Linked DNA regions of Homo sapiens: region 1 is linked to region 2. Evidence: fine-mapped expression QTL. A gene starts in region 2. The other region holds a variant in brackets. All regions are shown on one strand. Distances are from middle to middle.

Region 1 (15,824 bases), 66 kb after region 2:
ACTAAAAATACAAAAAAAAAAAAAAAAAATAGCTGAGTGTGGTGGCAGGCAGCTGTAATCCCAGCTACTCGGGAGGCTGAAGCAGGAGAATCACTTGAACCTGGGAGGCAGAGGTTGCAGTGAGCCGAGATTGTGCCATTGCACTTCAGTCTAGGCAACAAGAGTGAAACCCCATCTCAAAAAAAGAAAAAAAAAAGCAATTTGCTCAAGGTGACACAGCTATTTATGACAGAACTCTGATTTGAAACAGCCTTGTTGGCTTTTAATGCTCACATTCCTTCCTCTGCCTGGCTGATGTTCTGTCCCAGGTGGGCAAGAACCATCTCAACAATCTCAAGTGATGGAGATGGAAATGAGATATTAAAATCTTCAATGTCTACATCAAGGAAGAAGGACAATGAGATTTTAGGGCCCAAGTAGAGTTCAATATCTTTGGCATTGCAAAGATCACCTTAACCTGGTAGAAAGATTTGGAAGTCATTAACGAATAACACTTCAAGTAATCACAGACATGCTAAGAAAAATTCTATAGGGGAACTGAGACCCTTTGTATTGGAGGAAACCCACCATCATGTTAAGAAGAGATAGAGCAGCTGAGGTATATGTTGATTAAAATCTTTTCTCCCCCCAAATGGTGCCTTTTATGCAGCATTGCAGTCAAATGTCACAGTTAAGGGAATAAAAATCTGGTTACTAGAACAGCAGGCCACAGGGAGACAACATTGTGCACATTTGTACACATAAGACAAACTTCGACTGTGAAAATGTTTCCAACAGAGTTAAAAGGGAAGAATCACATCAAGCTACTGTGGTGAGTATTGCACTGCATTCAGGATATATTTAATGGATAAAAAGCCAGTGACTAGCCAGGCACAGTGGTGCATGCCTATGTATAGTCCCAGCTACTCGGGAGGCTGAGGCAGAATGATGGCTTAGCCCAGGAGTTCAAGGCTGTAGTGCAGTGAGCTATGCTCTCATTTTACCATTAGGATTTCATTTGAATTTGTATACGGATAAGGGTGATCAACCAATTATGTAATATAAGGGAACATTTCTAACGTATGTGCACTAGTTAAATGGGAGGAGCATGTAATTATAATTTTCTGAATTCCTCACCTTACCTTGTTTACAAATACGTAGCCTACATATGGGACATGATTTTTCTCATCTAATTACTAAATTTATTAAAAGTCTAACATTAAAAATGATGACATTTTACCTATTTGGTTTTTTTTTTTTTAATTATGGTGGTTAGAACGTTTTAATCTGTGATTCTAACTCTCTGGGATCTGAAGTTGGCTTAGCAACAAGAATTGGCTTCCATTAGGCCCATATCTCACTGGAGTATTCAACAGAGAGATAAAAAACTAGTAGCCTGAGGGCCAAGCTTGGCTGTCACTAAAGTGAGTTATGTTTGGCTCTTACTGGTTGGTTGTCTTAAACATTTGAATTCAAACGCCTTTAGTTGAAGTTTGACCACACTCTGTCTCCACCACTCTTTACGGTCTCACATCCAGCCCAGTGCCCACAGTTTATCATCTAGGTGGCCCTTGAAAACCTTTGCTTCTGCTATCGCTGAAGGGAATGCTTTGTTGGACTATTTTTCCCATACTTGCAGAAATATTTGTTATTTTGATTATGCTTCTAATTCCTACAGAAGGCATATTAGTTATTCATACTTCAGGGTGAAATAGTTCAGTTGGATTGCTGTTCTCTTCAAGTCTAAAGTCCAGCCTGGAGAATCCTGGAGTTTTTCTGGTAGGGAGTGTGTATCCTTGAAGCTTAAATGATTAAGGGAAAAGGGTAAGCCGAGACGGACCAGGTAGAAGGGAAGTTTGGGTGGTCAGAGCAACAGGCCAGGAAAGAGGGAGTCCCCACTGATGACGTGATGAGTAGTGTGGCCATGAGAAAATTCCTTCCCAGCATTTCTGGACAATTTATATACTCTTCTACATCCCAAATTCTGAGACAAATCAGTTGAGAAAATGGAAAAAATGTATTGCAATTCTGCGAGAATTAAAGCTTAACAATCAGCAGAGGCCCCAGTGGTTTGAGAGATTCATCGAGGGATCCACTGAAGGCAAGATCAACTGACATAGCAGTTGAAGGTTGAGGTCAACGTTTCTGAGAGCAAGGCAGGGAGCACATGTAGAGAAGGTGCCATGGGCTGATCAGTCTGCCTTGCTTATAACTGATACCATGTTACAAGCATGTGTTCCTGGCCCTGTCTGCTGCTAACTGGGAGGCGTTTTTGCAAATAAAATAAATATTAAGAACTTTACACTTTTTAGGTCAGGTGCAGTGGCTCACACCTGTATTCCAAGCACTTTGGGAGGCTGAGGCAGGTGGATCACCTGAGGCCAGGAGTTTGAGACCAGCCTGGCCAACATGGTGAAACGCTGTCTCTACTAAAAGTATAAAAATTAGCTGGGCATGATGGCGGGTGCCTGTAGTCCCAGCTACTCAGGAGGCTGAGGCAGGAGAATCACTTGAACACAGGAGGCAGAGGTTGCAGTGAGCCGAGATTGTGCCACTGCACTCCAGCCTGGGTGACAGAAAGAGACTCCATCTCAAAAAAACAAAGAGAAAGTTTTAAAAATAAAATTGAAAAAAGAACTTTGCACTTTTTATAGCATACTTTACACAGACCCTAAGAGTGATGTTCCAAGAAATAACAACTTTTGGAAGCAAAAAAATCTATAAATTGATGATTTTGAATTGCGATTTCTATGTAATGCTGTTAACTTTGCTGGGCTAGATTTGATTCAAAAACTACTTAGTAATGTTTGCTAGCCTTTGACAAGGTTTGGATATTTGCAATAGGTTATAGTTCTTTGTAAATACTACTAGACAGAATATTTCTTATTTATTAAAATAAGTTAAATCTAGGCAGGCACGGTGGCTCATGCCTGTAATCTCAGCACTTTGGGAGGGCGAGGCAGGTGGATCACTGGAGGCCAGGACTTTCAGACCAGACTGGTCAACATGGTGAAACCCTGTCTCTACTAAAAATACAAAAATTAGCCGAGCGTGGTAGGGGGCACCTGTAATCCTAGCTACTCGGGAGGCTGAGGCACAAGACTTGCTTGAACCCAGGAGGCGGAGGTTGCAGTGAGCCGAGATGGTGCCACCGCACTCCAGGCTGGGCTAGAGAGCCAGACTCAGTCTCAAAACAAACAAACAAACAAAAAATGTTAAATCCAGAATAATGAGTAAATAACTTCCGATTTCTCATTTCCAAGTTCTAGGTATTAGTATTAATATTTATTGAGAATTTGAAAACACTACAAAAAATGAGAATATAAAAAGGTGAGTAAGAGTCTGTTTTGAAACTTTGCCTCAGGCCAATCTTGTTCCTGGAGGAAAAATAATGGTCTCCAGGAGGCATGGGTTTCTACCAGGAAGCGAAGTTATTGAGTAAATGTCACAGGCTAAAGAAGCCACAGGGATTTGCTCTTGTTTGTCTATCTCCCGTGTTCTCAATTTCATCTAGAAACATCACTTGACTTTTATCTTGGCTGACAAATCAGCTCATGTACCTAAGGAAGCTTAACTGAACGTGGCAACCCGAGCTGCTGTTTTGGTCATGGAATCAGATGTCTTTTACTATTCTGAGGCCCAAAGAGCCCAGGGTGAAATAGCAGCATCTGCGGCTTCCCATGTGTCAACTGCGTGTTTTCCAGCCCAGACCAGTTCCGGTGGAACAAGATGTGATCAACCATATCAGGTTCTCTAAGTGCAGTGATCGCTCTTCTGAGAAGAAACTATTCTTTATCACCATTGTGATGAATTGTGACACAAGTGTCTCTGCATCTGATGCCCTCTCATCCCGGGATGCTGGCAAGCAAAGACAGAGCAGGAATGAAATTTATCAGGCACGTGTTTAACTTCTCACTTCGACCCAAATCAAAATGGAAGCCTCCTTCGTTGCTTATCAAAGCCCATAAACCAACAATATTGAGGTGTTTGCTAGCAAGGACAAAGTTGGAAAACAGCTCATGCCTCTTATACTTTAAGGAGTATAATAGACAATGATTGGCCTCTGTTCTACTCCCTTTTTTAAAAAAGTGGGAGAGCTGGGCGCGGTGGCTCATGCCTGCAATCCCAGCACTTTGGGAGGCCGAGGTGGGTGGATCACGAGGTCAGGAGATCGAGACCATCCTGGCTAACACGGTGAAACCCCTTCTCTACTAAAAAAAAAAAAAAAACAAAATAATTAGTCGGGCATGGTGGCGGCTGCCTGTAGTCTCAGCTACTCGGGAGGCTGAGGCAGGAGAATGGCGTGAACCCGGGAGGCGGAGCTTGCAGTGAGCCGAGGTTGCACCACTGAACTCCAGCCTGGGTGATAGAGTGAGACTCCGTCTCAAAAAAAACAAAAAACAAACAACAACAACAACAACAAAAACAGGGGATAGTGAGAACATAGTTCCCACTGCCACAAATTATGCAGTTGCGTTTCCCACATTTGGGGAAATCACAGGATCAGCACCTCTGGAGTGCAGTGGAACCTCACCCTGGGAAAACCACCTTCATGATCATGGTATCTCCCCTGCCAGGTAAGGATCTGTTCCACTCACGTTTTATGTGTGTGGCCAGTGGAGGGAAAAATTAAAATTAGATTTGCTTTCTAGTCTAAAAGGACCACTCATTTTGATATAACAAGCATGTGTTGATTGTTATATCATCTATATAATTAGATATAGATGTGCATGCAAAGTTTAGATCCCGTAGATGTGGATGATGTACATGGAGTGGATGACGTCGATGTAGTTGACATAGATATTGTAGATGCTGTAGAGGTAGCTGTCGACTACGTAGATGCCAATGTAGAGTAGATGGTGTAGATATATACACAGATTTAGATAGAGTAGATGCAAATATAGATGCAGATGTGCATGGCATAGCTGTAAATATGGATGCAGATGAGGTAGGTGATGTAGATTAGAGTTTCTTAACCTCAACACTATTGATATTTTAGGCCGGATATATCTTTGTTGTCAAGGACTGTCCTGTGCATTGCAGGATTTAGCAGTATCCCTGGGATTTAGCAGCATCTCTGGCCTAGATGCTGAGGGCATTTCTTCCCCCAACCCTGAGTTGTAACAATAAGAAGTCTTTCTGGAAGTTGCCAAATGTCCCTGGGCAAAGTTTCTCCAGTTGAGAACCACTGGTACAGAAGGTGTAGATAAAAATGTTGATGTAGATAATGATGTAATATAAGCATAGGTATAGGTGATGTAGATAGTAAAGATGAAAATGTAGCTGTAGATGATAAAGCTGTGAACACAGATGTAGGCAGAGTATGTGTAAATATAGAGGCAAATGATGTTATAAGATACAGCCTATAGATAAATGATATAGCTGTAAACATTGACATAGATGACATATTTGATATAAATAAGGCAGATGTTATAAACTTTATGATCTGGGCAGAAAACTATATGTGCTGATAATGCAGATGGCATTTCTTTGACCCCCTTTTGTTTTGTCTTGTTTTGTTTTGTTTTGAGATGGAGTCTCGCTCTGCTCCCAGGCTGGAGTGCAATGGCGAGATCTCGGCTCACTGCAACCTCTGCCTCCTGGGTTCAAGCGATTCTCCTGCCTCAGCCTCCCGAGTAGCCAGACCAGCCGGGCTAATTTTTGTATTTTTAGTAGAGATGGGGTTTCATCATGTTGGCCAGGCTGGTCGGTCTGGAGTGAGCCACTGCACCCAGCCTGACCCCACTTTTGGAAAAATTTCCAGACGGTGGATAAGCAGCGTCCTGTTAGGAATAGTTTAAGCACGGTATAGCCTGGAGACTGAGAGACTGCCCAGGTGACCTATTAAGGTTCTTTTTGATGTAACCACCTGATCCTGAGATATCACAATTTCTATTAAAGGCTGATACTCAGGGTGAAAAAGAAAAAAAAATGAATGATGAAAACCAGCAAGACATGAGACTCAAAGATATCCCTTCATTAATATAAGATCACATGGGAAACCTCAGATGGTCTTTCTATTCCTTCAGTAAATCTTAGTAGGATATTCGCACACCAGACAAAACTAAGCAAGTGTTTCTGCTTTCCCCACAATCCCAGCCTCTCACAGACATCCCCAAGTTGCCAACTCACAACTAGCTGACCCACAGTTTAAGCAAATTCTATCCATAGTCCCGAAGGAACCCGACCTATGTCCCAGAGAAGAGAAACATTCTATTCTCCCAAGGTCATGGTTCTCTACCAATCCCAGACTCAACACATTTAGCAAATTGTAAACCTCTCCAAATCATTTTTCAGGACCTGCTGAAAGTGCATTGGCTGTGAACTGTGGCATTTCCAAATATCCAGGACATTTGCTGAATAGAAGGAAATGAGAGTTAGTCAATTAGTCAGCATTTATTCAGTTATGCCAGGGCTGTGGTCAGGGTCTGTGGGCTGCTGATGAGTTTTCTGGCAGGGTTGAAAGAAGATTAAACCTGAGTGACTCTGCAACACGGGTAGAGAGTTATTGAGCAGTAAATAGTGAAATAAACCACCTGTACCAATTAGGAATCTGGTGGAGGATGTGCACCTCCTGATTGATTCTGGGAAGAATTTTTTTTTTTTTTTTGAGACGGAGTTTGTTGCCCAGGCTGGAGTGCGATGGTGCGATATTGGCTCACCACAACCTCTGCCTCCCGGGTTCAAGTGATTCTCCTGCCTCAGCCTCCTGAGTAGCTGGGATTACAGGCATGCACCACCAAGCCAGGCTAATTTTGTGTTTTTAGTAGAGACAGGGTTTCTCCATGTTGGTCAGGCTCGTCTTGAACTCCCGACCTCAGGTGATTCGCCTGCCTTGGCCTCCCAAAGTGCTGGGATTACAGGCGTGAGCTACCACGCCCGGATGATTCTGGGAAGATTTATGCTGGGCTTTGAATGAATGATGAACAGGAAGTTTGTCCACAAGTCTGGAGGATGAGAGTGGACACAGTACAGCAGATGTTTTGGGTGCCCTGCCCATGCCCCCTCGGGCCTTAGCATTTTGTGCCACAGCACCTGACTTTCAACTGCCAGCATCTGCCTCTTTGCCCGAGGGCTTTGTCTGGTGGCCAGAGCTTGCTTTGCCCATTCACACAGCAAGCTGGAAGCACTTGGAAATTAGTGCCCTCCCAGTTTCAGCCTTCAATCAAAGATGGATGGGGACTGGTGTTTAAATACCCTAGCTGCCTTACTCCTTTTGCAGGATAACTTTGAAGCTTACAATCTGCACTGGCTCCAGTAGGCTTAAGTTCCAGATGCCCACAGTGGTAACTTGCTTGATAATGTACCTTTTACTGCTTCTTTCCCTCTCCTGTCTCAGTTCCTTGCTTTCCCACTCAAATAAACTACTTGCACTTGAATTTGTGCCGGAGAGTCTATTTCTGGGGGGAGCCTAAGACACACAGGCCGTGAATAGATTCTCTGAAGGTCCTTCTGGCTCCTTATTTTCTATCTTGATATCCATTAAGGCAAACAGAAAGCAGAGAAGGCAGGATCTGCCAAACTTTCTTACCTCAGCCCAGAAAATTCAAGGGCATCTTTTCCTGGCAACGAAGAAACTCTGTGCCTTTGGGAGCAGCTGCCACAGCGTCAGCTCTGGCCTCATGTTACTTAACCACAGACATCAACACCTCCCCTTATGGAATTTGAGAGGCATCAGAAATACACTGAAAGAACAATGGCAGAATCCTGGCTGTCACCTCAACACATCTCTCATGTTCCAGTTCATCTCTGTCCCAGTCTGATACGTGGCAGCATGACATACTTTAAAGTGCACGTCTAATCACTAATGGAACCCTTGGAGAAGAAGTTTCCATGCTCCTGGAAGCTAACTGCACACTAAGCATCTGAGCAAAAGTCAAGTGGACACATTGATCTTTGGTTTTCCCCCAGACATTGGGCCAGAAGGAGGCAATCAGTGAACTAGCGAGACAGAAGAAGAAATTCTTTCCCCTTCAGTGAGGTTAAAGCCTTTGCAAACTCAGCACTTAGAACAGTGCTTTTTGTGGGGGGTGTAACTCATTTGAGGAGTGATAGGAAATGCCTCCATGTTTTGTAGAAATAAAGTAACTGCCAGGCACAGTGGCTCATGCCTCTAATCCTAGAATTTTGGGAGGCCAAGGTAGGAGAATTGCTTGAGCCCAGGAGTTCAAGACCAGGCTGGGCAACATTGCAAGAGCTCGTCTCTACAAGAAATTAAAAAATAAAAAACTAGCCAAGCATAATGGCTCATGCGTGCAGTCCCAGGTACTCAGGAGGCTGAGGCTAGAGGATTGCTTGTTCCCAGGAGGTCAGAGGCTGCAGTGAGACATGATAATGCCACTGCACTCCAGCCTGGGTGACAGAGTGAGACCCTGTCTCAAGAAAAGCAAAACGAAAACAAAACTGTTGGTGATGTCTATATGCTCACAGAAGTCCAAATGGGGAGGTGAAATAGTCATTTGCGGTTGTAGGGGTTACTTAGCATCCTAATGCCCTTCCCTCTGTGATGTGGTCATGAAGGCAGGCAGGATCTACTTCCCACTATAGAAAGGAGCGGAGCCAGATGCCCTTTTGCTGGTCCCTGGCCACTAGAGG[A/G]CAGTCATATTATCTAGTCTCAGCAAATCAAATGCTCCCACCCAGGATGAAGGGGTGGCCTGCCCCTCCACACCTGTGGGTATATCTTGTCAAGTGGGACGAGAGACTGAGAAAAGAAATAAGACACAAAGTATAGAGAAAGAACAGTGGGCCCAGGGGACCGGCGCTCAGCATACAGAGGACCAGCACCAGCACCGGTCTCTGAGTTCCCTCAGTTTTTATTGATTACTATTTTCACTATCTCAGCAAGAGGAATGCGGTAGGAGAGCAGGGTGATAATAGTGAGAAGATCAGCAAGAAAACATGTGAGCAAAGGAATCTGTATCACAAATAAGTTCAAGTGGAGGTACTATGCCTGGATGTGCATGTAAGCCAGATTTATGCTTTTCTCCACCCAAATATCTCAGTGGAGTAAAGAATAACAGAGCAGCGTTGCTGCCAACATGTCTCGCCTCCCGCCACAGGGCGGTTTTTCTCCTATCTCAGAATAGAATAAATGTACAATCGGGTTTTATACCGAGATATTCGGTTCCCAGGGGCAGGCAGGAGACGGTGGCCTTCCTCTTTCTCAACTGCAAGAGGCTTTCCTCTTTTACTAATCCTCCTCAGCACAGACCCTTCACGGGTGTCAGGCTGGGGGACAGTCAGGTCTTTCCCATCCCACAAGGCCATATTTCAGACCATCATATGGGGAGAAACCTTGGACAATACCCGGCTTTCCAGGGCAGAGGTCCCTGCGGCTTTCCGCAGTGCATTGTGCCTCTGGCTTATCGAGACTGGAGAATGGGGATGACTTTTACCAAGCATACTGCCTGTAAACATTTTGTTAACAAGACACATCCTGTACAGCCCTAGATCCCTCAAACCTTGATTCCATATAACACATGTTTCTCTGAGCTCAAGGTTGGGGCAAAGTTACAGATTAACAGCATCTCAGGGCAAAGCAATTGTTCAGGGTACAGGTCAAAATGGAGTTTCTTATGTCTTCCCTTTCTACATAGACACAGCAGCCGTCTGATCTCTCTTTCTTTTGCCTACACCAGGACTTTTAATTTAGACTCAGGGATAGTTTAGAATTTCAAGCAGCCGCAGCATCTGGCTCCTGTGTTCAGTTGTGTTGATGTCCAGCAGCCAGAGTGGCAGCAGAGCCACAGTTAGGGACATCCTACCCAGACTGCCCCTGAAGCATGGCCTAGGCTGTGTCCTTGCTGCCTGGCCTCCCTCAGAGCCTGCCTGATTTCAAAACCTGGTTACCCATCCTGTCAATTCTATTAGCCACCTACTATCCTTCTATTAAAGTCAGCCAGAATCCTCTTCTGTTATGTGCAACTGAGAACCCTGAGTGGCATAGAAATTGATATCCCATATACACAGAGCTTCCTCTGGAGGTCAGAGACCTGGGCCCTTGTCCAGGAGGCATCTAGATAGCTGTGGGGGCTTTTGTCTCCAACCCTTCGGGGGCTTGACTGCATAGTTGCTGAGATTATTTTTCTGTTCTATGATTTTTCTATGATTCTTCCTAAAATGTTGGCCAGTGAAGACCCAAAGCTACCTGAGCTCCTGTAGCCTTAGTGGTGACGAGTATGGAAAAAGATGTCATTGTGTGACAGCCACAGATGGGTCTGGTCCAAATCAAATCACTTGAGTATCTCAAGTCATATTCAGTTCCTCACTTTCCCACTATGCCCACTATATGTCTGCATAGGTCCCCGAAGAAATGAATGTACCTGGTAAACACTGCTTTGGTACATCAAGGGCAAGAACATCCATGGTTCATTTAACAACATGCACAGATATCTGCTCAATGAATGGGCCCATTGGAGACAAAGAGAACCAGAGGTGATAAGACAGTGAGAGTGACTGGCACTTTTTTAATACATGGTAATCTAAATAGTTCTGGTGCCCTGGCAAAAAGTCTGGGGAATGTAAATGTGCCTCTAATAGGCACAGATAATGGGCATTTTTAGGGGGAAGAAGTAATTGGTTTTTAAGCCACAGTCACACTGTGGCACAAAGCAAATGCATGGAAAAACTGCTTGAAGCAATATGGGTCAGGAAACCTTTTATAGTTAATGGTAAACCAATCTATTTGGAGAGTGGCTTAAAAGCAGCTTTTAAAGGAGAGAGAGACTACTATAGTTTGGCTTAAAAGGTATGTCAACCAAATGCAAAATCCTTGTTTGAATCCTGATTCAAACAAACCAACTGTAAGAAGGCATTTTTGAGACAACTGGGGAAAATTGAATATGGACTAAATAGTAGATGATGTTCAGGAATTATTGATTATTTTCTTGGGAGTATTATATTCTGGTTGTTTTTAAAAAGTACAAGGCTGGGCACCATGGCTGATGCCTATAATCCCAGCACTTTGGGAGGCCGAGGCGGGCAGATTGCTTGAGCTCATGGGTTCCAGACCAGCCTGGGCAACATGGTGAAATGCTTTCTCCACCAAAAATACAAAAAAATTAGCCGGGTGTGGTGGTGCATACCTATAGTCTCAGCTACTCGGGAGGCTGAGGTGGGAGGATCACTTGAGCCTGGGAGGCAGAGGCTACAGTGAGCCAAGATCACACCACTGCACTCCGGCCTGGGTGACAGAGCAACAACAACAAAAACATACTTATCCATTGGAGATACATGCTGAATTTGCAGCTGCAATAAAATAATGCCGTAGATTTTATTTTAAAATACTCTAGCGCATGCAGTACTACTCAAAGTCTGAGGATTGGGGCCAGTTTGCAAATTGTGTGCTCTTGGTCTGTAATAAGTGCAGAAATTGACAACAAATATTTAGAAATGGCTATAGTACTTTGACATTGCCATGGCATCCAAGTAGTGAGTGGTGGACTCTAATGAGAATAGAACTTAGTTTGGGTGTTGTCAAACCTGCATAGTGTGTTATGTGTGGCTTGGGTGTGAGCTGTGTGCTGGTATTGGTCCATGGCAGATCGGAAATTGAACAAAAGAGTCCTTAGCTTGAGGAGCAGTGTCTTGGCGCACACACACACACACACACACACACACACACACACACAGAGGGAGGTGGTGGTGGGATCTGCTGAAAAAGAATGGCAGAAAGCTGATGGCTGTTGAAGGTAGGTGATCAGTACATGGAGTTCATAATACAATTCTCTCTATTTTTGTGTATATTTGAAAATCTACATTATTTGGTATATTGAAAAGTTTTAAAAATCAGCCTGTTGATGGAGATATTTAAAAATATACATTTTAAATGCATATGTTTACATTGAAACATACTGTGTGTGTGTGTATTTCAAATAAAATAACATAGAAATGACACATAGAACACACAGCTCCCAGGGGTATTATACATAATGATTCAAGTAAAACTTTCTTATTTTACAAAAGAAGGCTTAGGTAAACAAACAATGCCATTTGCCAGATCATGAGCTTGGTGAGCTTTTATTATATAATAAACTCTAATTACATAATAAACTTTTTGAAGCTATGGATCTGGTGAGATACAACTTCTGTGTCTCCATAGCACTCCACCCATGATACTGCAGAATAAATAGTGCCTATTAAACAGTGGTTGATAAACAAACTCAGGAAATGAACTGTTATGGACAGCAGTTTAATTCTCCGTGCAATAACTCCACACTGCTCAATTAATTTGAAAATTAGTTTCCCGAATCCACCCTCTTAGAGATTTGTCACAGAACGTTTAAGCCTGAGGGGGACCGGGAGCTTTGTTAATGTCCTCATTTGCAGACACGGAAATGAAGTTCAGAGGAGGTAGATGAGCCTCACTGGACACCCTGCTCGTTAATGGAAGTGCTTTAGCCTCTCACGCCTGCAACTGGACTCTTCCTTCCACCATGATGTCTTTCAGAAGGTACGAACCCATCTCCGACACTGGCCCCTTGCTCTTGGTTTTAAAATTATAGTTTCAGTTGTAGGAAAGAGAAAGATGTTGTCAAGCTGACTCCACCAGGAAGCTGAAAAGGAAGTGTGAATACAGAAAAAAATTACGTCTTGGTTGCTATTTACCCAGCACTACTCTGTGCCTGGTATGGGTGGTATAAGCTCTCCAGCCTTCAAGAACTTTCTGCCTGTTCAAGGAAGGCAGATGTACACATGTTAACAGTTAAAGGACAGTCCTGCTGTGTAGCAGTTAAAGTGCAAATGAGTAGCTGGGTAGAGCCGTGGGAGCTAGAGAAGGAAAGGAATGTTTTGGCGGGTCCAGTCTCAGAAATGTGGAGAGGGCAGGACATCTGGGTTCGATCAGTGTGGACCTGTGGTGGGGCTTCCTTTTGTTGGCATTAAGGAGCTTTCTGTGGGGGATGAGATAGGATACCCTCGGTGATTTGGGAAAATCAACGTGGTAGCAACAGTGAATGGAAGAGGCTGAAAAGGGGAGAACTGGCAGCAGGGAAAACCTTCAGGAGGTCCTTAAGGAGATGAAAATGATGCAGGTGATGGTGTTGGGAAGAAAAAGACAAGGCAGGTGTAAGAGGTTGTGTGTGTGTGTGTGTGTGTGTGTGTGTGTGTGTGTGTGTTTGAGACAGGGTCTCACTCTGCCCCCCAGGCTGGAGTGCAATGGCACAATCATGGCTCACAGCAGCCTCTATCTCCCAGGTTCAGGTGATTCTCGTACCTCAGCCTCCCAAGTAGCTTGGACTACAGGCACACGCCTCTCAGCCCAGCTAATTTTTTGTATTTTTTTGTAGAGTCAGGGTTTTGCCATGTTGCCCAGGCTGGTCTCAAGATCCTGGGCTCAAGCGATCTGTGCACCTTGGCCTCCCAAAGTGCTTTCTGGCTGGGTGCGGTGGCTCACACCTATAATCCCAGCACTTTGGGAGGCTGAGGCGGGCAGATCATCTGAGGTCAGGAGTTCGAAACTAGCCTGATCAACATGGAGAAACCCCGTTACTACTTAAAATACAAAATTAGCCGGGCGTGGTGGCACATGCCTGTAATCCCAGCTACTTGGGAGGCTGAGGCAGGAGAATCGCTTGAACCTGGGAGGCGGAGGTTGCGGTGAGCTGAGATCAAGCCATTGCACTCCAGCCTGGGCAATAAGAGCAAAACTTCATCACAAACAAACAAATTTAAAAAAACCACTATATACTAGGTGCTGTTCTGAATACTATATAGATGTTCCTTGATTTAAGATGAGGTTATATCCCGATAAATCCATCATAAATTGAAAATATCTTAAGTTGCTTGATTTAGAATATTTTCAATTTATGATAGGTTTATGAAATTGTAATCCCATCAAAAGTTGAGGAGTGTACTGAATGATTTCATGCCATTGTAAAGATAAAAAACCTTAAGTTGAGCTATAAGTCAGGAACTGTCTGTAAAAATCTGAACTCATTTGTGCCTCCTGAACTAAGCACTATTGTTATTCCTGTTTTACAGTTGAGGAAGCTGAGGCACAGTCAGGTTAAATAACATGCCCAAGGACATACACTAATAAATGGCCAAGTCAAAATTCACACCCAGGCAGGCCGCCTCCTGTGTCTCAGCTCTTAACCACCACTTCTTGCTGTATACAGTGAGACATTTAGAAGTAAAAGTCATAATGAATCCACACTTCGTCAAGCCTGAGTGACAGCAAATGTTAGTGCCATGGATAGATTAGAGGCATCAAATGAGAATATTAACTTGTGGGAAAGAGGATACATTTGATTTTCTATACATTTTCTTTAAAGCGACAAGGACACATATGAGTAGAATGTTCCATGGGAAATTAGAGTTATATAGGATAGAAACTTGGTAAAGACTTGAAAATTGGCAGATGAATAATAGCTGGAGTTTTGAGGGAAGATAAATTCCAAAGAATGATGATATGGTTTGGCTGTGTCCCCACCCAAATCTCGTCTTGAATTGTAGCTCCCATAATTCCCACGTGCAGTGAGAGGGACCAGGTAGAGATAATTGAATCATGGGGTCAGTTTCCTCCTTACTGTTCTCACGGTAGTGAATAAGTCTCATGAGAGCTGATGGTTTTATAAATGGGAGTTCCCCTGCACAAGCTCTCTTACCTGTCACCACGTAAGATGTGACTTCGCTCCTCATTTTCTTTCTGCCATGAGTGTGAGGCCTCATCAGCCATGTGGAACTGTGAGTCAATTAAACCTCTTTTCTTTATAAATTACCCAGTCTCAAGTATGTCTTTATTAGCAGCTTGAGAACAGACTAATACAAATGGCAAGTGTGAAGTTGAAGACTATGGAATTGCTAGTTCTTGGCTATTTTGACCAACAAAAATAGCGGTTTCATACGGATCAAGCAGGGCTCAAGATTGTGCTTCAGGGAAAAATGAGAGGTCAAGGTCAGGAGGGAGAGGGACTGCTTGGGAGACAGACATTAAACAGGGATTGGGGAAGATTTAGATCACACCCTTTTACATTATTCATTTTTAAATTACATTTTTGTTTATTTTTGAATAGGCAAGACCGACATATAGCTGATAATTCAAAAAGAGATTTTTATCCACCAGCGTTACCACCTGCAGACAACAGAATCCACTGTAGGGGTGAAGGGAATTTTTCTTCCCCCTGCTTCTGAAGGTTCAATAATTTGGGTCTGTAAAACAAATGGACAATAGACAGATTAATAGGAGAAAAGGCATATAAATTTATTTACATGCAAATGCACAGAAGCCATACAAAATATGAGACTCAAAGAAGAGCCAGATGACTGAAGTTCTTATACCATATGGAAAGAAATAGGAGCTTGGGGCTCCTGGGGATAGGTGGTAACAGGTTATGGGAGGGTGAAGGGAAGAAAGGCAAGTCAAGCAAAGCCTGTCTTACTATGCAGATGAAATCTCTCAGACAGTAGTCCTGAGAACAAAATAGATGGCAGCCTGTGGTAAAGGTTTCTCTGTCAGACCTTTAAAAGTATCAGGCTGGGCATGGTGGCTCACACCTGTAATCCCACTGCTTTGGGAGGCTGAGGTGGGAGGATTGCTTGAGGCCAGAGGTTCAAGACTAGCCTGGGCAACATAGCAAGACTCCATCTCTAAAACAATTAAAAGAAAATTAGCTGGGTTTGGTGCCATGTGCCTATAATCCAAGCTACTCAGGAGGCTGAGTTGGAAGGATGGCTTGAGCCTAGGAGTTCAAGGTTGCAGGGAGCCATGGTCATGCCCCTGCACTCTAGCCTGGGTGAGAAAGTGAGACCCTAACTAACATAAATAAATAAACAAAGATAAAAGTGTCAGACCACCAGTCTCATTTTCCTGTGAGTTACTCTTTCCTAGATATGGATAAGAGAAC
Region 2 (15,824 bases):
CCACAACAGAAATCAGAAAAATTCACATTATAAATGCAGTATTATTTATACCTAACAAACTGTCAAAAATGTACAAGTCTAACAATACCAAGTGTTAATGAAAAGACAGAGAAATGGTAACTACTTAACACTACCAGCAAAGATTTAAGTTGGGAACAATACTCTGGAAAGTAATTTGGTAACATCTAATACAGTTAAAAATAAGTACAGCCGGCCAATCCCAGCACTCTGGGAGGCTGAGGCAGGCGGATCACCAGGTCAGGAGTTTGAGAACAGCCTGGCCAACATAGTGAAACCTTGTCTCTACCAAAAATACAAAAATTAGCCAGGCATGGTGGCGCGTGCCTGTAGTCCCAGCTACTCGAGAGGCTGAGGCAGGAGAACTGCTTGAACCCAGGAGGCGGAGGTTGCGGTGAGCCAAGATCGCGCCACTGCACTCCAGCCCGGGCAACAGAGCGAGACTCCGTCTCAAAAAAAAAAAAAAAAAAAAAAAAAAGTACAGCCTACAACTTAGTATTCCTCTGCTAAGGAGACATGTACAAGAATGTTCTCTGCAGTATCATTTGTTCTTATAAAAAACTGGAAAGAGCACAATTGTCTACCTCCAGGAAAATGGATAAATTGTGGCTATTTATTTAAAGCAACACTCCACAATAGTAAAAATGAAAGAATTTGATATGTATTAAAATAGGTAGAACTACAAAATAACCAAATAAAAAAACAGCTGCGTGTTACATTCAGGATACCATTTACGTAAACACAATACAAAAAACTAACTCTACACATGTAGTCAAGAATAAAAATGTAAACTTGAAGAATACATGCCAATTTCAGCATAGTGGTTGCATCTAGGGAGCAAATAAAGGGAATAAAACTGAGAACAGAAAGACTTCAACTTTATATAACCATATTTTTGTTACAAATTAAGCTAAAATAATATTAATATTTGCCAAATCATAGAGTAGATAAATGTTAATTACATTATTCTCTGCACTTTTCTATAGTTTTAAAATCCAGTTTAATAAAGGCTAATAAAGATTTAAAAAACCCATCACTTCTAAATAGTAGAAGAAATAAAGGGGAAAAAAAACTTGGTGTGTATACCTAGAAGTCAACAGAAATATGAATGGAAGGGATGCATATTATAATAACTTCAGGATAATGATCATCCCTGGGAATGGTATAGGTAAAAAACAGACACTAATTGTGCCAGTAATGCTTTATATCATTAAAAAATGTGTCCGGAGCTGAAAAATGTAAATTCGGGGTGATGAGTAGTGGAATGTTTTATTTATTTCTGTATTTTTCTTACCCTGAAGTATTTCATAATATAAAAGCAGAAAATTGAAAATAAAAAATAAAAATAAGCTCTGTGTTCAGAAACACTGGGAAATGTTTTCTGTATTCTGATTTGCCTTCTTTACCAAGATAAATAAAGAAGCAGTTAAAGAACGTATTACCTTTGTGGGAAGACTGTATTTTCCATCTGGAAGAGGAAAGCTCTGAATTTCTCCACATGCAGCACAAAGAAAAGCCATCTTGGTGCAAAGAGGCTTTATATTACTGACACGAACCACTGTCCCTCTTAGAGCAATGTATTTTCCATAGTAATTTGCTCTGACATTCTTGAGCTGTGTCAAAGGCTCATAGTTGTACACCCTAAAGACAAAACAGGAAGTAATGAACAGAAAATTGATGTTTTTTATATTTTCACAAGTTCCTTTTAGGAGCAACTATGGAATTCTCAAATCAAATCATCCCTTCGATATATCAGAAATATCACAAGAATTAAACCATTCTTGTTGTGTTTTGTTTTCTTGAGATGGAGTCTCGCTCTGTTGCCAGGCTGGAGTGCAGGGGTGCCATCTTGGCTCACTGCAACCACTGCCTCCCGGGTTCAAGTGATTCTCCTGCCTCAGTCTCCCGAGTAGCTGGGACTACAGGTGTGTGCCACCACACCCAGCTAATTTTTGTATTTTTAGTAGAGACAGGGTTTCACCATGTTGGCCAGGATGGTCTCGATCGCTTGACCTCGTGATCCGCCTGCCTCGGACTCCCAGTGCTGGGATTACAGGCATGAGCCACCGTGCCCAGCCAAACCATTCTTAACAAGAAACAACACTAAATCTTCCTTTTTCTTCTTGTCTCACAGGCTGTTCTCAAGGAAAAAAGAAAAAAGAAATTTAAGGAAAAAAATAATGCCAAAAGGAAAATCTACAGATTCAAAAACCTTTGGGTTTCTAAGTTCTTTTTAAAGAACTGCTAGGAAATTTTCTTCTATAAATTCTGGAAAAGAAAAACAAAATGCTGATGATTACCTTATAATGAATTCTTCTAATGAATTTAAAATCTTAAAGATGAATTCAAGAAAAACAAAATAATTTCATTATTCCCTTGTATCTAACAAAAACCTAATAATTTAACAAAGAACACTTAGTGTATTACAGACTGAGTATATCCCTTATCCAAAATGCCTGGGACCAGAAGTATTTTGGAATTTTTGGACTTCCAAATATTTGCAATATTACTAGTTGAGTATCTCTAATTCAAAAATCTGAAGTGCTCCAATGAACATTTCCTTTCAGTGTCGTGTCAGGGCTCAAAGTTTTGAATTTTGGAGCATTTCAGATTTCAGATTTTCAGATTAGGGATACTCAACCCATACATGGATTATTAAACTTACACAGCAGGGTCTTGATAAGTTCACATCCAAAACCAATGTTTACAAAAATCTGCAGGTTAGGAAATCAACATTTTCTTCCTTATTTAGGAAGTATCTGTCATGATGTCTTTGAATAATTTTCAATGAGTTTATTTCAGTGTGATGATCAATGAGATGGCAAGGAACTCATGTCCTTTTTACTGATTTCCTCATTTTTATAAAATGAGCGTTTTCATTCTTAAATGGCCTTCAATGTCCCATTCTAAGTAATACTTTAATACATCAAATTCCTCACCTTGCATGAATATGTGGCACATTTACCATTGTTTCTCCATCATTAGACAATCCTTCCTGGGCTTGTAACTCAGCTGCATGCCTTTCAAGGTCCTTAGTTAACACCTAAACAGGACAGACATTTACTCTGAAGTTGGAAAACAAAACATCCTCTTTATACAGAACTCTATTTTTATAGAGAATATAAAGTTTATGGACAGAAACAGAATAAAAACAGAAAACTTTAACAGCCCTTTAAATATCTAATATTTAATTATGACTACTTACTTTATAGTGGATGTTTTACATTGGATTTTGCTGTCCCTGTGCTGAAAAACTCCAGCATCCCAGTCTGCTACTTTCTGTCCCAACTAAACCTAACATTAAAAGCCCTTACATTAGTCCCCAAAACCATCACCTCTTGATACTAATTAAAAAAAAAAAAATGCATTCCTATTTCTCTATATTCACTGACCAATCAAGACACAGAAAATAAAAATGACCTTTAAAATACCTAATACTCACTCCCTTGGCATTTAACATTAAATAATATAAACACGCTGGGCGCAGTGGCTCACACCTGTTATCCCAGCACTTTGGGAGGCCAAAGTGGGTGGATCCCCTGAGGTCAGGAGTTTGAGACCAGCCCGACCAACATGGTGAAACCCCATCTCTACTAAAAATACAAAAATTAGCCAAGTGTGGCAGTGCATGCCTATAATCCCAGCTACTTGGGAGGCTGAGGCTGCAATGAGGCAAGATCACACCATTGCACTCCAGCCTGGGCAACAAGAGCAAAACTCCATTTCAAAATAAATAAATAAATAAACAACAAACAAACATTTAATACCACTTGTACACAGCAGTTTGCTGGCAACCTAAGAGGCAAAATAAGATGCATATATACAGCTGTAATTGTCATAAGGACCATAAAGATGTACAGACAAAATACCATGCAAGTTTCGAAAAGTGGTCATGAGAAAGGTTTTACAGACAGACAACTGAGCTAGGCCCAAATAATCTGTCCATGTGAAGGGAAGGGGATTCTATGTTGAATGGACAGCACAGGCAAGAGGTAGAAGAATGCCCCTCTGAATGCCCCAGCACTTTGTGTATGCCTGTCCTGAGATTTGCTATTCATTACCTTGAAGCATGTATCTGTTTGCTAGCCTAAAAAATGTTTTTGGCCGGGCAAGGTGGCTCATGCCTGTAATCCTAGCACTTTAGGAAGCCAAGGCAGGCGGATCACAAGATCAAGAGATCAAGACCATCCTGGCCAACATCGTGAAACCCCGTCTCTACTAAAACTCCAAAACTTAGCTGGGCATGGTGGTGCACCCAGCCACTCGGGAGGCTGAGGCAAGAGAATCACTTGAACCCGGGAGGCAGAGGTTGCAGTGAGCGGAGATCATGACACTGCACTCCAGCCTGGCAACAAAGTGAAACTCCATCTCAAAAAAATAAATAAAAAATAAATTTAAAAAATTTAAAAAGTTAAAAATGTTTTCATATATGTTGTATTACCTGACCCTGAAAAAAAACTCAGGCAAGCACAGTACAAACTGTTATTTACATTTGATATACAGGGACACTCAGTGGTTTGCTTCATGCCACAGAACCTAAATCTAAGGTTGCTCTTTTTTGCTCTAAGTTCATAACCGATAACACCATGATTCCTTGTTTTATCTTCCCTATGAGATTGTATAACTTCTTGAAAGCAAAGTTTAATTTCTGCACAATCTTTAGCAAGATTAAGCAAATCCAAATAAGTTGGAGGTAAATATTTCATTTAGATAAGCTGTTGTATATAGAATGAATGGTATCTTTCAGAACGGAACTGCAACCTCTCAGTTCTAGCCAACATCTTTTCGTAAAAGCTAAGTATCTCTTATAGAAAGTACAGTCACTGTAAAATCTTCCTTTAAACTTAGACAAGGTGTGCATGTGTGTGCAAACATTAAAAAAGTTTAGACAAAAGTATGCATAAGACAAATAGTTACCTGATGTATTGCCAAACCCATGCAAGCCAAGGTTTTCTCAGGTGCATCTCTTAGTTCAGTTGCTATATCTGGTATCAAGTTAGTTACTTCACCACCTTCTGTCAGTTCTTTAAAATCTACCAAAATACTTCCCTTTCTTTCTATTTCATCCTATAAAATATAAAAGTATGAAAACAATAATTGCTTTTCTGTAGTCAATTACCATTAACTGAGCATTCTATTATAGACTTTGAGAAAGCATACAATGTTTATATGTGATAATGGTAAGTATGACATAAGTATAAGCTTTGTGCCAAGCATGGTTCTGATATTTTAAATATATTAATGTATTACTGCCTCTTAACAATCCTTTGAGGTAGGTATTTATACCTCTATCTCCAAATGAAAGAAAACTGAGGCACAGAGAAGTAATTAATCAAAGTCCATACTGCAGGTAAGTGGCAGAACTGAGGTCTGAACCAAGGAAGTCTGACTCCAGTGCCTACGATCATAATCACAAGTACCTCGAATACATTGGTAAGATGGCACATGACTGGTAGCTTTGCTGTAGAGGAATCTTACCTTGTCATACAAATCAATATGCCTTGTGAAAAATTTTTCAAATGCTTGAATCTTCTCAATCAAAGGAGAGCTATCGCTGTAAACTAATCCAACAAATATGGCATTAGCACAAATAATCACACAGGTACATGCACATTTTTCATGAGACAAAAGCAGCACTATATACATGGTAGATGATTTTTTTCTAATTGCTTTGTATTTTGATTACATTCATATAAGAACTAGTATAGAATGTAAACTTAAGATTCTAAAACAAATTTAGGTTTGCATAATGTGAAATGCAGACAGAAACTCTCTCTCTCTAAAAGCCCCACTATCTGGGAAACTTTGTTTTGCATCTTTGACACCTAATAGGACATGTTAGTTCAGATAATTTAGACAATAAGCTTAAACTAAAAATTATAATAAAGCCAAAGCCAGACACATAAACTAAGCTCTTACTCTGACAGAGCTGAAGACAATCACAATCACAGTCTTTCCTGAGATCAGGAGACAGACCAACACTTGACCCTGGTGGCAAAACTGAAAAGCCTTTTTTTTTTTAACACTCTAAAGTTCTACATTTTCAAATATGTCTCTCACAGAAGAACAGTACAATAAAGTAGTTTGGAAGCACAGATGGTGAAGGCTAAGGCACCTCTTGAACTCCATCTTTAGGACTGTCCAAAGATCACTTATAGTGTTCTGAGCTATCTGCTAGGGGAGCAATGGGAGTGCTGGTGGCTAATACATCCTAAAGGAACAAAAGATCATTCATGAAACAGATTCTATTGATGGAAAAAAACGAACAGATTTCCAATAAAGAAAACATTTGTAAAGTACTCTATTCATTCACAAAATGACTACTGCATGCCTGGTATGGGGCAGGGAGGGTCCTGGACCTCAAACGTCTAGTTTTCCTAAAAAAAAAAAGTATGCGGCTGGGTGCGGTGGCTCACGTCTGGAATCCTAGCACTTTGGGAGGCCGAGGCGGGCGGATAACGAGGTCAGGAGATCAAGACCATCCTAGCTAACACGGTGAAACCCCGTCTCTACTAAAAACAGAAAAAATTAGCCGGGCGTGGTGGCGGGTGCCTGTAGTCCCAGCTACTCGGGAGGCTGAGGCAGGAGAATGGCGTGAACCTGGGAGGCAGAGCTTGCAGTGAGCCAAGATCGCGCCACTGCACTTCAGCCTGGGCAACAGAGCAAGACTCCATCTCAAAAAAAAATAAAAAGTATGCACACACACACACACACACACACACACACACACCCCTCATGAGACATAAGAAACAAATGGGTATTTTAACAGCACAAAAAAGACAGTTCCCTGCACCTATACAGACTGATGTAGGTTAATTGGTATTCCTAATTATCAAAGGGAGATTCCTTACCTGTGTTTCTACACAAAGCTGTATTTGTTATTGTCCCTTGATTTCAGGCCCACTGTTCTACTTCCTGCTCTGCGATGCTATAATTCAGATCTGTACCCTACATGTCTCAGATTCTCTTTAAATTCTGCCAATTGAAGGCACTTTAGAGACGGGAAGGTGGCAGGAAGAGAAAGGAATTTATTCTTGTTTCCAACTCTTTTCAGCATCTCTGCAGCTGCAGAAGATAACGATAGTGCTAGCCTCCAGTTCCAAGCACCACTGAGTCATGCCCCCTCAGTTACCAGTGGCAACCAGCTTCATTTGCCTTAGTGGTCTAAGCACAGCTCTGTAAGGTAGCCTTCAGAAGTCCAAGCATAGCTTTGTAGGGTGCCCCTCAAAAGTCAAAATAACAGCTATGCTGTGACCTCTCCAACCTTTGAATTCCCACATTCTGGTAACCTCAGAACTTCTTTTAGTCTCTTAGCCATAAGGATGGTTGCTGCTTCCTGAATTACTACTTTCTGGGGAGTTACCTCAATATTTCCTTTCTGCTCTTTCAGTCTTCCATTTTTGTATCCAATTTCTTGTATTAAGTCCCCTTTTTGAAATACCTAGTATGGTTTCTGCTTTCCTGACTGATATAAAGTCTAAAATGCTTTTGAAACATAAACATCATTTAATTGTTTGGGTGAACTAAGATTAAAGCAGGTATATGTTAGTAAATGAATTACAGTAATACAAGATGTAGCATCCAAAGACAAGTTAAGAAAATATGATTTATGGTGCTTTTTTGTACTTTTTAAACCCTACCTTCAGAGAAATAAAGCTTCCAGCCTTTATATGGTATGAATCGATCCAATGTTGACTGCATTGACTGTGGGGTCTTTGTTGAAAGCAAAAACTGTGGGGTTTGTTCTGAAAAAAATAAAATACTAGGTTAGTAGAAACAGAGTGAACATTTTTCCAATATGCTTCTCTTTCCAAATGAGACTCTCATTAATAGAGTATCCAAATTAGGGGTTTTAGTAAAAATCTGGGACATCAATGTTCAAATACTTACTAAGGAGTAGCATGAAATAAAAGACAAACTGAAGTATGAGATAAACCGCCTTGTATGATAGACGTGAATTGCTTCCTTAAGTGAAAAAAATTGAACAATCATTGACCTCACCTACCAGAAGTACGTTTTCCTGTGGTTTTACTCAGATCAGGTCTGTGTTCTCTTTCTCTCCATTTTCCTGAGAAGTTCCCACCACCTCTTCCCCTTTTCCAGCTTTGAAATCTTCCTCGTCCAAATCCTCTGCCTCTATACTCTCCATTCATCTCTCCTAAAAGATAGATATTAAAAAGGTCTTCACCAAAACTGTAAGGAAAATAGTGCTCTTAAAAATGTATTAATAAAAAGGGAAAAATTAATGTATTCTAGGTTCAAGAGTAGCAAACAGGCTTGCAAAGTTGTACAGCTATGATACAAGACCCAAATATTCTGCAGTTAAGTTTCTAATCTCTATCGCTTTTTAAGGTATACCATAATAGTTTAATAACTATTAAATATGGTTTACGTATACTAGACGCTCACAGGTTAAAAATAAGGACAGGTACTGTACCTGTTTACAAGTCCCCATTACAGAAATGAAAATAGGACAGGTAATTAACTCTATGAAAACTTATTTGCAGTATTTGAGACTTCTTATTATAGGGCAGGACAGGATGAACATAATTCTGGCCTGTGAGACACTAGGGATACATCATCATAGCTTCTTACATACAGTCAATCCTGCAGTGTCACATCCATTTTTTGTGCAGTTTTTCTGTAAATCCAAAACTGTTCTTATAAAATACACGTCTACTTAAAAATGATTCATATCCTAAGTATACAAGTAAATAAAGATATACCTGTACGCTGCAGTGCAATTCATTATCAAATACTCTACCCAAATCCTTACTTAAAAGGGGTTTAGTTAATAAAACAAGATAGTAACTAGAAAGTTCACGATTTAACGGCATGACAGGGCTCCAATAATTAGGCATTACACATTATGAAACTGATGCTCAAAGAAATTAAGCAAACCGATCAAGATCAAAGTTGTTTGTCGACAGTACAGAGATAAAACTTTCAGCCTCCCAAGCTGAGGCGCTCCTTCAACAACGCTGCGTGCCATACCCTTCTCAAACGAGACAATATGCTGAGAACAGTAACAAATTCAAAAAAACGTTAAGAAGTAGGACTGGAGAAAGAGTAAAAAGAAACAGTTGGGTACCTGTGCTTCTTCAAATACTACTTTATTTACATCTCCTAAGGCTAAAGTTCTTACTTGCTTGGGACAGAGGTCCCAAAGCTCTCCTAGTTCACAACTGGGCCGGCTCCAGGATACGCGCAGATCTGTCCGGCCGGATTCTCCCTCCCTCCCTCCCGTAGAGAAGCACCACGGGGCTAAGAGTCTCCGGGATCTTAGCTCCTCAGGCGACTCCTGCCAAGTCCGCAGTTCTCTTCAGCCGCAGCTTTCCTGTCGTCCCCGCGCGGTGCTGAACCCCATCTGTCTCAACGGCTCGGGAAACTCAGTTTCCCCACCGCAGCTTCCAGAAGGTGTCTGTAGCGCACAGCGCCGCAAAAATGCCTCAAGCGAAAATCAGGTCTTCCCCTAAATTCTTTTTTGGCGCTTCAGTGATCCAACTTCCGCTCAAAGAAGCGGCAAGACGAGAGGGGCGGGGCGGAGTGCAGCCAATCAAGGAGTTTGGCCAGACGGAAGCCGAGAGGCTTCCGGAAGCGGTCTTGAGGTCTGGGCCGGAAAGCGGAAGCGGCGTGCAACACGTGGGGGCGGTGCCGGTCGGAGGGCTCCTAGTGCGCCAGGTTGTGGGAAGTGAGGCTGGCGGTGGCGACAACCGAGGAGGAGGGGCGGGACGCCGTGGAGCACGGCGACCGGCTGAGCGTCATGGAGGGCTCAGGGGAGCAGCCGGGCCCACAACCACAGCATCCCGGAGACCACCGCATCCGCGACGGCGACTTCGTGGTGCTGAAACGTGAAGATGTGTTTAAAGCAGTACAAGTCCAGCGGAGAAAGTAAGTCAGATCGCTGATTTTAGGGGTCTCCCGCCCCCACCTTGTAGATACCCCCTCCCTCCAGGTTTCTCCACAGAATTCTTCCGCCAGGGTGCCATTCTTGGCTCTCTCGGTCCCCATTCCCCGCCCTCGTTGTCTCCTCGGGTCTTTCTGTCACAGAAGGCTTTTCCACCAGGATCCCGTCTTCGAACCTCATAATCTCCCTTAACCCTCCTGTTTTTCCCGGAGCCCCCTCCATGATTTCATATCTGGCCGTCCACCTTCAGCATCCTTTTCAGTCTTTCCACAGAGTTCCTTCCCCAGAATTCCATTCTTGGCCCTAGGGTGCCAATGCCTCCCTCTCCACACCCTAATCACCTGTCCTGAAGTTCTTTCCCTAGGACCTTGGGATCTTCACTGTCTTTCCAGAGACACCCCCTCCTTTCTTCACTTTAGGATCTCATCCTTGTCTCCAGAGTCTCCTTCAGGTTCCCCCTTTTTTTCCACCATAGATCCTCCTTCTTCCCTAATCCCCCAGTCAGGATCTATCCCACAAAAAATGAAACGTCTCCTACCTAGTCTGGCTTTCTATCCTCTTCTCTACCCAAGCAGGATACACAGAATAGATGAAGGAGACAATTCACCACAGAGTGTGGAATCACTTTGAGTTTCCCTCGTTTTACTCACCAAAGGATTCAACGCTGGGAAAATTGCTAAAAAGCAATTTGCTCAAGGCCTCAGAACTCCAAATTAGGTTTGGTTTGTGCACCTGCTGGCTAGTATCGCTCTGTTTTATAGAAGTAAAGAAGTGGGATTTTGATAACTTTCTGGAAGGGCTGGTGAGGTTGTTAAGTCCTAAGAGCTTATTAATGGTGAAAATTTATTGGGATATTTGGATTAATTTATCTGAGAAATACAACCACAGTGTTTTTGTTTTTGAGACGGAGTCTTGCTTTGTCACCCAGGCTTTAGGGCAGTAGTGCAATCTCGGCTCATTGCAGCCTCTGCCTCCGAGGTTCAAGCGATTCTCCTGCCTCAGCCTCCCTAGTGGCTGGGACTCTGGCACCATCACACTCGGCTAATCTTTTTTTTTTTTTTTTGTATTTTTAGTAGAGACGGGGTTTCACCATGTTGGCCAGGCTGATCTCGAACTCCTGACCTCAGGTGATCCACCCGCCTCGGCCTCCCAAAGTGCTGGGATTACAGGTGTGAGCCACCGCACCTGGCCACAGTTTCTTTTGAGCTAGGTTATTGTATTACTTTTGACAGAGATAAGTTGAATGCAATGTCAGGAGAACAGCTTTCTGCAGACTGGGAAGTATGAGATTTGGAATTTCTGATAAGTACTTACTTCAGATGAATTCTTTTACTCCTGGTTTAAGCAAACTGTTGACTGGTATTTAAGGTGAAGCAAGCATCATAAAATAGTCAAGAAACAAGTCTCCAGAGCACTAAGCTGGTGATAACCAAGCTTTTTGCACAAGCACTAATTTAGTAAAGATAAAAAGTTTCTTTTATGAGGGGTATGTTTCTTTTAGTCCGGAAATGTAATACCTGCACCAACCTTTAACCATTTTTAAATTCTTCTTTTTTTTCTTTTTTAAACTAATTAATTTTTTTTGCAGAGACAGAGTTTCACTATGTTGTCTAGGCTAGTCTCCAATTCCTGGGCTCAAGTAATTCCGGCCACCTCAGCCTCCCAAAGTGCTGGGATTACAGGCATGAACAGTAGTTGACCTTCCCCTTTTGTGGTGCCAAAAGGGTTGGAGACCACTGCCCTAAACATTTATTTGGAAATACTTTTCAACAGGCCCTCTTCTTCGCAGAAGTCATAGTGGCAGTTTCCATTTTATTTAGGAAATGACTCTCTCAGCTCAGCTGCATCCCAGGTCAGACTCCCTCATCACCCTTGGGGCTACACTCATCTGATTGGGCAAAAAACAGTCCAGGCTCTCTGAGAAGTAGACTCTGCAAATCCTACTCCTTCCCAGTAAAGATGTGGCCTCCTTATCCCTCTAACGGGGCCCCACATTCCCGACTGGGGCAGTGACCTGTCAAACCAGCCAGTTTTAAGTGACACGCATCATCCCCTCTGCATATCACATAGGCTCTCAGAGAGGTAAACCCACCCATCTCAGATCCAGTGTTTTTGTTTGGTTTGTCTGTTTGTTTGTTTTGTGAGACGGGATCTCACTCGGTCCCCCAGGCTAGAGTGTAGTGGCGTGAACTTGGCTCACTGCAACCACTGCCTCTTGGGCTCAAGCAATCTTCCACCTCAGCCTCCTCAGTAACTAATTTGTGTACTTTTTGTAGAGAAACTCCTGAATTCAAGTGACCCTCCTGCTTCAGCCTCCCAAGTAGCTGGGACTACAGGTGTGTGCCACTACACCTGGCTAATTTTTTTATTTTTTGTAGAGACGGAGTTTTTCCCCGTCAGCCAGGCTGGTCTCAAACTCCTGGACTCAAGTGACCCACCTGGCCTCCCACAGTTCTGGGATTACAAGTGTGACCCACCACACCTGGCCAGATCCAGTGTTTCAAAGCACCTAGGTGATTAAAGGATGAGGATAGGGGGTGCACATCTGGGCTGAGCTGAATTGCAACATCTGAGGAGGTTTACATTAGCAAATATTTTGAGTGTCTGTTACATTCTGTTGTATGTAAGTATCTAGGGACCCAGCAAATAACAAGAATTGGCCATATCTGAATCACTTACGATCATACAGGATTTCCCTCAGATGGTTTGAGTAAGCTTTAATGAAGATGTGACTCAAAAGTGTGGCCGATTTAGGGAACCAATAAAGGTGACACACCCAGAGACCAGCAATGGTGGTAAGCCTCTGACACGGGAGCGTGGGTGATGTGGCAGTATATTCTGTCGTAATCAGCTTCCTGGTGGCACAGAGAAAGGAAGAGAAGGAGTGGGATGGGGCACAATCAGAATTAACCACCACATGATTCCCAGAATTCAGTGTTCTGTGCACATGGGCCATGTCCTGAAGCTAGGTGGGCTTTCTACCGTCCTTAGGTCTTTGCTGGAGTAGACCGTGTGGTATAGTGGAAAGAATGAGGCTTGGGGTCAGACACAGATTTGAATTTGAATCCCAGCTCCAACAACACCTTGCAACTGTGAATCTTGGACAAGATACTTCTCCCTGGGCCTCGGATTGCTCTTCTGGAAAGAGCTATGTCCCAGGATTACCGTGAGAATTAAATCAAAAAGTGTGAATCACACCTCGCACACACTGCCTAGCCCCTGGTTGGCACTCAGCAGATGTTAGTTTTCTTTTGAGAAGAAAGCATTGTGTTCCTGTGGGATTTCTCTTTTAAATTGCAATAAGATAAAAAATCTATGTCATAGGAAACCTCAAGTTGCCTGGTCCTCAGTAGAGCATTGTCAGTGTTAGGCTCCATTTCCAAGTGTGTAGATTGTCAGTGTTTATTTGCAAGTATAATTTGCTTTTATTAGATAATTTTCAAATAAAATGGCCGATCAGACCAAGCCCAAGAAATTTGTTAAATCCTTGTTACTTCGATGAGTCTTTGCTTCCCCTTTCCAAAATTCAGTGTTCTTGTGGCTTATTCATTAATTTTACGTCTCTATCCCAACCAGGTTCTCTCTAGTTCCTTTGTTGCTTTATGTTCAGAGATAATGCTGCTGATCATCCATTGTGGAGACCACTTTTGAAATAAACTGTAGTGAACATGTCTTTTCTGTACTGGATAGAAAAGATATTCAGTTAATTGATTACTTTTTTTCCCTAGAAAAGTAACTTTCGAAAAACAGTGGTTCTACCTGGATAACGTCATTGGCCATAGTTATGGAACTGCATTTGAAGTGACCAGTGGAGGAAGTCTACAGCCCAAGAAGAAGAGGGAAGAGCCTACTGCAGGTGCACATTTTGGATGCGTGAAATAGATGCTCTCCAACTGACTAGTCAGAAACATCTCAGCCTCCACCTAATTCCCAAGTGCTAGGCCATGCTATCCCAAAAGAAATCTTAACTCATAATCTAAGAACTGCAGCTCAGTGGAGTGAAGCAAGTACTGCCTTTGGCCATGAGATAACCTGGATTCTGGCTCCAGCCCACCATTAAATGGTTCTCTGTTCTTGGGCCAGGCATTTAATCCTATGAGTCGTTGCTGCGTCATTGCAAGAACATAATGTAAAGTTCTTTCAGTGCCCAGAAGTTATGTAACAGCTGTGAGGTGGTTAGCATATGGTGTAGAGGTTAAGAGGTCTGGTTTTGGATCCAGCTAAGTTCAATTTCTACCTTCATCACTTGCCTTGTACCGTTGGGCAACTTATTTGATTTCTGTGAGTCTTATATCCTTATATATGTAAAATAGGGTCATAAACACATTTAATGCCTAGGTTGTATTGAGTGTTCTATGATATGACTCATAGGAAGTTCTGAATAGTGTCTTGCTTTTAGTAAGGGCCCATAATTTTAGCTATTACTATTATTATTTCTTAACAACCTCTTGTCCAAAAGCTGTTATTGTTAATTAAAATTATATTTATTAAAATGAACATTGAGAGTATCTTATTAATTAAAACACAAGTAATTATTTGAAGTTAAATACTGTTAAAGTTTTGAGTCAAACCTGTTATTTAGATACATTTAAATTAATATCCATATTTTTACTAAGCACCAAATATATGCCAGGTATAATTTGGCGCTGCAATTATAGCAGTTCATAAGATAGACTGTCGTATAAAATGTGCTTACCAGTTGGAACACCAAAAATAATCAAGTAGACAAGCAAACAGCATGATTTCTGATGGTGAAGTGACACATGCTATGAAGATAATAAAGCAGGGGCGTGTACTAATTTGGTAAAGCAAGAGAATGAGCTCAGCCTCAAGTGATAGAAAGGATCCAGCCACTCAGACATCTGTCGTAGAACCTTCCAGGCAGAGGAAGCAGCAGGTGCCAAAAGCCTGCTGTGGGACCTTGCTGGGTGTGTTCAAGGAACAGAAAGAAGGCCATTGTGGCTGAAGCTAAAGTGTCAAGAGATCAGGCCAGGAATGATAGGCAGGGGCCAGATCATTTATGACCTTGCAGGTCATCTTTGGAGTGTATTCTTATTGCTATGGGAAGCCACTGTATGGTTTTAAGCATGGGGTAGATGAGTCAAATTGCATTTAAACAAAGAGCACTCTGGCATCCAGGTGGATAGTAGGGGGGCAAGACTGGGAGCAGGAAGATGACTTAGAGGCTTGGAGTAGTTTTGGCAGGAAAGGATAGTGTGATGGGGGCAGTGCAGCTGGGAGGCCAGACTTGAGTGGCTGATGGACTGGATGTGGATATGAACTCAGAAAAAGAAAGTGTCAAATAATTTCAGACCATAAATGTCAATAGAGCAATTTCTTTCCTTAGAGACTAAAGAAGCGGGCACTGATAATCGAAATATAGTTGATGATGGGAAATCTCAGAAACTTACTCAAGATGACATAAAAGCTTTGAAGGACAAGGGCATTAAAGGAGAGGTAATATTCAAAGGATTTTTAGTTTTGTTTTTGTCTGTTTGGCATTTAGGAAACTGTTGGGTTTTTAAAGCAGACTGTACCTAAGGTAAAACAAAAAAATAACGTTATAGCTTTGATAGAAATAGGTTGAAATGTACATGTTACTCAACATTTCAAAGATTTTATGTCTTATATACAGGAATATAAGTGAATGACATTACTAATGTCAGTGGTAGAGAATGTAATAACAGTGCATATCAGGATTTAACTTTGTTCATTTTCAGTAATGTTTTCAGCCAGTGTCTTCAGAAATTAGTTTCCTTTACCTCTCTTCTCCTTTTGTTGGATATCTCTGTTCTTTTACGTTGGTTTAAGTGGAGTTATAAAGTACTTGTATTTTATTATAAATTCCAAATAGAGTATAGAAATATAAAGTTCATCTATTTGGACTTCTGTGGAAAAG

The links. PIP is the estimated chance that this variant, and not a neighbour inherited with it, causes the effect.
Region 1: its variant is fine-mapped to the expression of TRMT6 in whole blood (TOPMed, PIP above 0.99).

The regions. Positions count from the first base shown.
Region 1 is chr20:5,878,795-5,894,618 of GRCh38, reverse strand. It overlaps the pseudogene RNU1-55P. Among named protein-coding and RNA genes, the nearest start is that of CHGB, 25 kb to the left of the region's middle. RefSeq lists a silencer at 2,108-2,318. The variant A/G (reference allele first, on the strand shown) is at 8,575.
Region 2 is chr20:5,944,363-5,960,186 of GRCh38, reverse strand. TRMT6 (tRNA methyltransferase 6 non-catalytic subunit) reads left to right here and starts at 9,654. Exons shown (of 11, transcript NM_015939.5): 1 at 9,654-9,909; 2 at 13,654-13,781; 3 at 15,273-15,382. The coding sequence starts at 9,782. It overlaps MCM8 (minichromosome maintenance 8 homologous recombination repair factor), which reads right to left and starts at 9,535. Exons shown (of 19, transcript NM_032485.6): 1 at 9,164-9,535; 2 at 8,024-8,176; 3 at 7,659-7,763; 4 at 5,497-5,579; 5 at 4,936-5,085; 6 at 2,958-3,061; 7 at 1,461-1,659. The coding sequence starts at 8,171. RefSeq lists an enhancer at 9,519-9,658.